2 linked regions of the Homo sapiens genome follow. The protein of the gene in region 1 purifies or fractionates together with the protein of each later gene. This does not show direct contact. Each region holds a gene or a part of one and is shown on either strand. Other genes may lie near its edges.

Region 1 (5,117 bases):
ATACAGAAGAGAATCTGGAAACAAACAAAAAAGGCTCTAATGTATTCACCTGTTTGCCAATTCTTTCAAAGCACATCAGTGGAATCCATATTTCTCATGTCTAGACAAACATAAAGCACTCTAGGGGTCCACCACGAAAGGTGACAACCATGTCAACTACGGACTTCATAAAATATCTAGTCTGAGTCTTCTTGTCCCTTAAAATCTCTCCACTTGCCTCAGAATTAGCATCCTCAGAATGCAGACTTTGTAGCAGGCAGAAATGTCAGATTTGAACACAAATACCACTTCTACTCATTGCTACTGTATACTAAGTATGTACCTTGGAAGAGGAACTGTGCTAAGGACTTTATATGCATGTTCTCACTGAATGATTCTAGTGATTCTAAGAGGCGGGCTCTATTATCATCCCCATTTTGCAGATGTAGATACTGAGGTTCCATGAAATCACTCTAGATCACAGAGCTGAGAAGCAGTTCTGAAACTAACTCTTCCCAAATCTAGGACATGCCTTGTTACCCACTCCTTCCCCTGCCTTGGGCTGCATGTCCTGTAACACTACGGCAATGACTGACACATTGCTCTGATGCTTCACTTGCATGTCAGGAGGATACCTTAAAGCAAAACAATCCTTAGAAGCGAATCTCAAGTAGTAGCTTTTAATATTGCTAGCAGTTTGAAGCTCATAAAAATCATTCAATACTTTTCATGGCCGGGGGCAGTGGCTCACGCCTGTAATCCCAGCACTTTGGGAGACCGAGGCAGGTGGATATCTTGAGGTCAGGAGTCCGAGACCAGCCTGGTTAACATGGTGAAACCCTGTCTCTACTAAAAATACAAAAATTAGCTGGGCATGGTGGCAGGCACCTGTGATCCCAGCTACACAGGAGGCTGAGGCACAAGACTTGCTTGAACCCCGGAGGCAGAGGCTGCAGTGAGCCAAGATCACGCCCCTGCACTCCAGCCTGGGCGACAGAAACAAGGCTCCATCTTAAAGAAAAAAAAATCATTCAATACTATTCATTAGATTCAGCAACCTACTTATTTCTGCAAATATCGGCAGTAATTTTTTCAAAATTAATCACTTTACCTGTCTTTTCCCTGTGTAACAAAAGATGCTTTTCAATTTTTAGACACCTAAATTTAGACAATGATGATATAACTTAATAGGCAGTGAGATGGTAAGGGTTAGGAGAATGCAATCTGTAACTATGCATTCTCATCCATTTAAAATGATTTAAAGAGGGTTTATAAATATGTTCTGTTAATAATTCTAATATAATTTTAAAAGATAATTCAATGATTGGTTAAATAAAAATACCAAACTAGATTTCAAAATTAAAAGTAGTAAAATAAAAAAAAAGTGATTTATTTTACATAGACTTTAATATGGAATTATGTAACTTTTTGAGTGGAATGGGCTAAGAGAGCTAACGTAGTCCAGTCCTCTTGTTTTATAGCTGCAATTAAAGAGGAAGAAATATAGCCAAGCACTTTAACAGTACAGGTTTAGAGTCAGACAGACCCAAGTTCAACCCCTGCTTCTCCACCGACCAGCTCTTCCCCTATCATTCACAAGTCACAGAGGCAGTTCTTGAAAATGCTCTGCCTGGAAAGCAGGAATGCCATAAACTGAGAATTCAAATAAAGGACTCTCTCCTCTAAAACAGATGTGTACCCATTCATTCATTCATTCATTCACTTGACAAATATTTATTACATACACACTAGTTGTTTGACCTTGGGCAAGGTACTTAGTTGCGGTCTGCCTTAGTTTCCTGAGCTATAAAGTGGGTGTCTACATTACAGAGTTGTTGCAAGGATTAAAGGAGTTAATGCACATAAGGTGTTGGTGATGGGTCCCAACACATTGGAAAGGCACAGTGTAGAGTATCATTATTCTACTGCTACTACTGTATGCTACGTTAGGAAAAATGGTGGGCTCTGGGGATAGAATTTGGGAGCTCTATGTAATATTTTCCTCTCGATCACTAAAGCATCTCATTTGCATAGAACTAATCTCCGCTCCAGTGCTCAATCCTGGTAGTGAAGCCATTTGGGAACTTGTTCACCAGGACTCCAATTTGACAGTGTGAATGAATGCATGAAGAGAAACATATCCCACCAGCCTTTGCCCACATATTTTGTGTTTTGCCTTCAGATGGCTTTGAAGTGACCTACATTTTTCACATGGCCTCCCCATGAGAAAGGATGAGTTTCTGAGTACGTGAGGAGGCTGGCTGTGTCCCTGTGGAACACAGCAAAGCTAACTGGTCCTTTGGGGGGTTAGGCCTTACATGTAGTCCTCACTGCACAGAACCACAGTCAGCTGGAATAACAACCTGGAGAAAGCCAGTCATTGCTACTCCACTGTCCTTATGGTTCTCTGATGGTCTGATGAGTTCATGTAGATTCCACATGTGTCCTGGAAACTCTCAGGATATGGTTGAAGTCCTACCTAACTCTCACTCCTGATCCTGGAAACCACAGAGAATGAAAAGAACCTTGAGTAGTCATGTGGCTTCTCAGTCTTACTTCTCATAGGAAACCTTACACTCATTATCCCAGAGAAACCAGAAATAAGACCTTGAGGGAAGGTTCTCTCCAAAACTCGTTCTGACGTGCAAGTCTTACTAAACAAACAAGAAAGAAACATAAACTTGTATGAAATCTGTCTCCCCTGCTCTATATGTGTGATGTGTGTGCATGTAAGTGTGCATATCTGTATACACTGGTCATTATTCTCTGATAGGAAAGTTAAAACGCTCCTATCAAAGAAAAAACAAAAATCAATGAAAACAGAAAATGATACCACTATAACATCTATTCTAGGCAGTCCATTCTTCCCACATGTTCTGGGTTGTCCCATTTTCTATCTCGTTTTCTAACTCTAGCTGCACTCTCCTATGAACCTTTCTTCCCAGATTGTCACAAGTCTTTTTTTAAGTGGCTAAGGTCAGCTTAAGATAAGCCATTAGGTAGGGGGCGTGGTTAATCCTTAGGTATAGGGGAAACCCAGCTTAAGTTTCTCTGCATGATACTTTTTAACCGATGCATCGTAGGTCCTTGCTTTCTTCGGTAACCCAAGAGCTAGCATGCTGAGTCACCGTCAGCTTGTTACCTGTTAGGACTCCACGGTCTAGGAAGCTGCTACCATCTGAGTGGAAGACACTAGGTCTGAGAGAGACAGGAGTCTCAGGTCTTATCCCACCTCCAGTCTCCCCCTAGATGGGTGACCCTAGACAAATTCAACTTGTGCTGGGAAGAGGAGCCTCACAAGACCTCTCCTTTTACAGATAAACTTCATCGAGTGACTTGTCCACAGTCACAATGAACCTCTCCATGACTCTTGTCCCTCAGTTACTGGGGAAAAGGAGAAAGAACAATCACATTTGGTTTCTCAGGATGTTATAGGTCAAATGAGATAAATATTTAAGGATTTGGCAAAGTTTAAAGCTCTAAAATATGAGGCAGTGACAGCTTTGTCAACTCAGCTGCATCTTCTCTTCATGCAGCTTGTGCTGTCCTATGTCTATTGCTATCGACTTTCTCTCTGTTTCCAGCCTCCTCTCCCGTTTACTCAAGACACACTGAATTCTGACCAACTCCTACAAGGAATTAACTCCATCTTCAGTTTAAAGTTCTTGACAAACTTAAGGAGTCTACCCTCTCTCAAGCAACCATCCAACCCCCTTATGTTCAAAGAGGCTAGATGGAAAATCGTCTCCTGCTGAGCACTTGTGTGGCAGGTGAAAGCCTGTTCTGTGAATTAACCAGTCTGTTTCTTAAAGCCTCTGCTGGCAGCTGACATCTGAGTTAAGGCTGCTGCTTCTGTACTTGTGTAGCCTGCACTCCCACCATCATAGCACGCTATGCTGCACTTGTCAGTCTCCTTTCTGTAACCCCGACTAGACTGAAGCTCACTGAGGGCAGAGGCAGGATCCTTGCGACTACTGACATTTGGACCAGATAATTCTCCGTCGTGGGGCTTCCTGTGCTATGCATTTTAGGATGTTGAGCAGCATCCCATTAGATGCCGGTATAACACCCTCATCCCACCCTCACTTGTGACAGCGATGACAAAAAGAAGGCTCCAAATATTGCCTAATGTCCCCTCAGAGGCAAAAATCACCCTTGGTTGAAATCCTCTGTGCAGAGTGCCTTTTTCCTACAGAGCACTCAATAAATACTTGTAGGAGAATGCATAGGTTGATGGAAACAAAATGCTCCAATGTACAAGCTGCAGAAAAATCAAGCTAACTTATTTCAGTTTTACTGCCTTCTGTAATGCCTGGCATACAGCAGGTGCTCAATATATACTTGTGAGGTGAACAAATGTTTAATGATTGTAAATGGCTTCCTGTACCCCTGGTAAAATTTTTCCCCTCAAGCGGGCCCAGGTGAGGTGGTGAGAAACTGTCAATGCTAGGGAGAGAAAATTTTAAAAAGAACAACAAAATCTCTTAGCTATGGGATTAGGGACCAGAAACATCACCTTGCAGAAAGGTAGGGGCTGTACCCAGACCATTAGCTCTCCATATAATTCTAGCTCTTGGGGCAGAAATCAAATTATTCGCACTGGTGATATTGAAATCATCTACCAGTGTTCCTGGATCCTTTAACGCACAACTCTGATAGAGCCATGAAGCACCGGGATGGTTGCAGGACATCCAGAAGGTCAGACATTGAGTCATTAGTGTCATTGCTGGGAATTGAGCCTGCGCCTTCCTGATTCTCTGTACAGTACTTGATTACACTGATTATTATGGATGCAAACTAAGACTTATCACTATTGTGAAATAACAATGCAGGTTAATGATATTCTTTATTGCCATGCTAACATTTTTCTTTCTAGAGGGGAAAATTATAGGCATGAAACCAATTAAGCCACCTTTCTCTCTTTTAAAGCTTTTTTAGTTTTTCTAAAGGATGATTCTTTCTGTGGCTCACTGCTTAATAGTGCAAACTCCTTTTTTGTTTCCTAGGTCTTACTGAGATAGGTGCTAATATTGGTGCTGCCCACTGTCCCCCTGCAAATTGAAAATGACTATGCTAATACATTATCTCACAAAGGGCAGTCACAAATAGGAAGAGCAAATATTTTGAAATGAATATTA
Region 2 (5,117 bases), on another chromosome or scaffold:
TTTAGTCAAGAAAAAGCAAAACAAGATTTACGGATGTCTACATTTCCCAATGAGAAGCTTTTTTGGTAAGAACAGCCTACAGTATTTTTTTTCTGCATATTACTACAGCAAATAAATACAGAAGTACTGCAAATGGCACACAGAGAAGATATATGGATAGTTTTTAATACAACTGTGGTGAGACATATTTTTATAGCTGGCTTTCCTACAATGTCATAGAGAAAAGAGTAAATCCATGAACAAGCCAATAAGAACCAAATAATGGTATGAAAATAAAGGCAGGCGAACTATTAATATAAATGTGCTCTGAGATTCCTAGAAGCAAGGACAAATAGTTAAACATACTTCATATAAAGACCATGCCATGAAAACAAGTCAGTGATTCACAGGTATCAGTGAAATAGATGATAGGTACATTATCTAGTACTGGCATCTGAGAAAATTTATTAATTCATTGCCAGGATTAGCAATGAGTTATGTCTACAGATTATACTGTCTCCAATAATATGATTATTATGTAGATTTCAAAACAAGCCAACAGCATGATGCCAAAACATTCGTAGATTAATGCAGGTTTAAAAGATGCCAACACAATAAGGAGTCAAAGAAGTAGCTCTCAGATGCTCAAGAATAAACTTTTTTTTTTTTTTTTTTTTTTTTTGAGATGGAGTCTTGCTGTCACCCAGGCTGGAGTGTAGTGGTACAATCTTAGCTCACTGCAAACTTGCAAACTCCATCTCCCAGGTTCAAGTGATTCTCCTGCCTCAGCCTCCTGAGTAGCAGGAATTACAGGTGCCTGCTACCATGCCCAGCTAATTTTTGTATTTTTAATAGAGATGAGGTTTTGCCATTGGCCAGGCTGGTCTCAAAGTCCTGACCCTCAAGTGATCCACCTACCTCCCAAAAGTGTTGGGATTACAGGCGTGAGCCACTGTGCGTGGCTCAAGAATAAACTTTAGAAGAGGCCTGTTATTTTATATTAGCCCAAAGCCAAACTGATCACCTTGACTCAAAGACCAAAGAGGTTTGATAACCTCTTAGAAAAATAAAACCACTGGGAGGGCCAAGTTTTCCTTCATAAAATAGTCTAATGTCTGCTGTAGCTCTTAGCAAAGTTAATCAATCAGGCCCAATGTTCTATCTGAGATCTCGGTAACTGTCTCTCTTTATCCACTGAGGCCATACAGAGAAAAACAGAAATTAAAGCCACTCAGAGAATACTTATTTTCAAGCCAGTAGCTTCTGGCAAATATAAGCCATTTAAATACCCAAGGCCCTGTAACAGTTTTATTTTTTAGCTTTGTCTTGAACCATCCAATCTTACACAAATTAAATACTCTTTTGAGACCACTCTACCATACTAGCTATTACAAAGAAGTGTCGTTTTTCTATTCTCAAAACTGGGCATGGGGGAGACATTGTTCTATCTCACATAGAGAAGTCTTCAAGTCATTCCCATACAAATTAAAAAGAAGGGGTGTTAATGCATTGTTCTGCTCAAAATGATTAGTTTTTCAGATGTCCATGCTTGTTCCTTTTCAGATATCTATCATCTGTTGCTTTGAAGCCCTAAATCTCAAAAATTAAAATTCATACCATCTTTGTTCCTTCTTTGTTTTTGTCCTTCTCACCTCTTTGCACCAGCCCTTCCCTCCTGCCCTATTTCCCTCCTCAACCAAACTTACCTCCTGTCTGAGTGATGACTTGTATGTCACTTGAAAGGGGACCATCTCCAATTGAGGTAAAAGCCAGGACTTTGACAGAATATGTTTTCTGGGGCACTAAGTTGCCAATAGTAGTGATTTGGCTGTCAGCTACATTGTGTTTCATCCAGTTGTTGACATGTTGAGTGGGATCCATTGTATAATAAACTCTATATCCTTGGATCTGTCCATTTGGCTCTTCAGGTTCCTTCCACTGTACCAAAATGGTGGTCGAACTCAACATTCGTGCCTGGACATCCCTCGGGGCACTGGATGGTGCTTGCTCTGAGGTTTGTGTTAGCACAGGTTCGCTGGGAGGCCCCCGCCCAATGTTATTGACAGCAACAACCCTGAATTCATAATCCGAGTAGGGACTTAGTCCAGCGACACTGTAGCGTGTGGTCGCCACCCCATCAATTTCTTTGTAAAGTTCCTCAGAGTTTTTAGGTTTATGCTGAATTATGTAATAAGAAACAGGCTCAGGGTTCCCAGAGTCCCACGTCAGTGTGATGCTTGTAGCTGTGCTCTCGGTCACTACAGGAGTTCCTGGAGGTTTGGGTAAGGCTTGGATGGGGGAAGATAAAAGACAATGACTACCCATCATCCCTATAATATTTCAAAAATCTATAAACTCTACTATGAAAATGACAGGATTATGTATCTACTGAAGATTTAATTAAATGAAATTATAGCAAAGAGTAGTTTTCTGAATGGCCAAGAAGGACAGGAAAACATTCATAGGTGACACAAATCCTGCTTTCCTAGAAGGGCTTGATAGCATATTTTTAGGCTTGTATCCAAATCCTCTACTTATTAGCTAAGTGATCCTGCACGCATTTCTTAACCTCTCTTTGCTTTAGTTTCCTCATGTGGAAATGGGAAAAATATTATTATTTAAGTCATATTATACAGCTGTATGTAACTGTATTTCATGGGTTTGCTGTGAAGACTAATGAGCCAATCCACTAAGATTCTTAGAATGTAACTGGAACCCACAAAAAAACCTTAGTATTAGCTGCAGTTATTACTATTATTATACCAAAAGCTTGGCCAATTAGCCCCTTGCCCCAATAAATAAATGGTATAACTGAAATACCGATAAACATTGAAAAGAACAAAATGTGGAATACATTGAAATGAAATTAAATTGCGATGAAACAATAACATCTATATTCTGGTAAGACACAATACCATTACTAAAAATTTTCTTGTAAATGAAAAACCAAAAATTTTAAGGTGCAAAAGAATAGAAATTTCAAATCAATGCTTTATTCTTAATATTTAAAAATTGCTGAAGGAAGTAAATTAAGGCACATTCACCAATCACTTTTTAAGGTATGTTATGGTCATATTAATATGCATTCTATATTCCACATCAGAAATATCCAATGTAGCTACATGACAAATATTTGCAATAAAATCCATCTTTTTAGAGGTCTAATTCTTTCTTTTTAGCAGAAGAATACAAATCAAAATACTACTAATTAAAAATATAAACTGTCTGCTTTGCTGACCTCATATTCAAGTGCCTTATTCTAAACAATGATTCTGAAACGCAGTGCTATTAGGGTAGGAAGGGGCATTCTAATAGTTGACTCTTTAGAGAAATCTCAAAGGGTAACATTCATATAATCAGCCCATTAGTGTCCCTGTTTCCTTGCCAACATAAAGGCAAGAAGTATAACACCCCCTAGAATGGCAGCTTTTCAAGAGCAGCAAACTTGTACTTCTGACTTACTGTAAAATTGTGAATGCCTAGAATGCTGCCTGGCACTCGGTAGGTTTTTAATGAGAATCGTTAAACAGTTAACTGAATAAATGAGTCAGCACCCATTCACCTCATTCTCTTCAACCTGTTCTTTTGTTTTGATTTATTTTAATTTGCCATTAAGATTCACTCTTATGTTTTATTTGTTTATTTTTGAGGTGGAAAAGACAGGGAAGTGGCAAGAGTCAGGAAAACAAAGATGAGAAGGTGAACAAAATATTAGTTTAAAGTGGCCCCTGCTTTTGAATTCTTAAAGGTCTTCAGCAAGCCTTCAAATATTTAAAGCTGAAATGGTAATTATAAAAAAGGTGATTCAATATTTACACACTACTCAAAGAACTACAGAATGATAGTATTTTGTCAAGGGAATTTACTGAAAATAATAATAAAATGAAATTTGTTTAAATATTCTGACCTGGCATTTTTCAAGGCTGTGTGTGCTCCAGATTTCCCCTACATGTCTTTCTGAACTTTCAAAGCAAATACAAATATTGCTAATTAAAGCTGTGCTCACTGATATTTAGCTGACATTATTAGTTTCACTAAGTCACATTTATTGTACAGTACAGGTTTTATGTCTGTAATGTACGGATAAATACATGTGTGCTTATTATATTAAGGTTACACAATATAACATTATTTCACGATTGTAAATGTTGACAATGTGTACCTTTGTTCTCATGTCATTAGTTTTATATAGCATATATTTGATATATACGCTTGGTTAGAGATGCGATACCAATTATAACGTGTATTGCATTTTCTAAGATCACCCCCTAGAATGGCAGCTTTTCAAGAGTAGCAAACTTGTACTTCTTACTTGCTGCTGAATTCCAAATGCCTACAACATTGCCTAGGAAAAGAAGATAATTTGTGTTCATTTTGCAATAGTTCTAGCCATCTGCAGAAAACTTAAGTTGCCCTATGTCTGACTCAATTTGCAAACACTTTCTAGAATTCTATAAACACTAGGGGAAAAAAAAACGGTACCCTTACATGCTTGTACTCTTTCTCTTTAGTTCAAAAATATTCATGTAATATAGTACTTTGGTTATATTTAGTCTGTTTTTTAAAGGAAAGAATATTCCTTGAGCACTCATCTATGCAAGGTGAAAGATAAAACTACAACAGAATATACTCTTACTTGCCTTTTGATTTTTAATAGTAGGGCTCACCAAAAAGTTAAATCATCTATTACTAGACTATGTTGATTTCAACTTTTTTTTTCTTCTTTTTCCTTTGTATTTAGAAATTTTAAGCATTTATTAATGCTCATATTGACTTTTCTTGGGGTTCTTATCAAGGTTCTGGTCTAGTATGTAGACTGTACACATCAGTCCCACCATAATGGTCGACCATGTGTAAAATTCCTAGTTCTGTCTGGTTAGTGCCTGGGCCTCCATGGACTGTCTTTTAATATTCTGATGATTATCTCTACATAGGCTGCCAGATACTTCCAAGAAAAAATCCGCCTATCTAGGCTTATGCATGTTATATAATACCACAGATATGATTAGGTTATACACACATTTAAAATGCTGAATAATGAATTATTTTAGATTTTCAAGGATGGGCTTTCTAGAGGCATTAGTCACTTGGCTTGAGTGTACCCAGATCCTCAAAGCATAATCCATTGAGCATACCTT

The links. The genes of interacting proteins can lie anywhere in the genome.
Region 2: the proteins of LRRN1 (region 1) and PTPRD purify together in Homo sapiens (affinity purification with mass spectrometry; 2 studies listed by BioGRID and IntAct, with this or other methods). This does not show direct contact.

Annotation. Positions count from the first base shown.
Region 1 is NC_000003.12:3,805,037-3,810,153, reverse strand, and holds part of LRRN1 (leucine-rich repeat neuronal protein 1 precursor), read right to left. Parts: intron 1-5,117.
Region 2 is NC_000009.12:8,516,163-8,521,279, forward strand, and holds part of PTPRD (receptor-type tyrosine-protein phosphatase delta isoform 1 precursor), read right to left. Parts: coding exon 5,115-5,117; intron 2,268-5,114; coding exon 1,686-2,267; intron 1-1,685.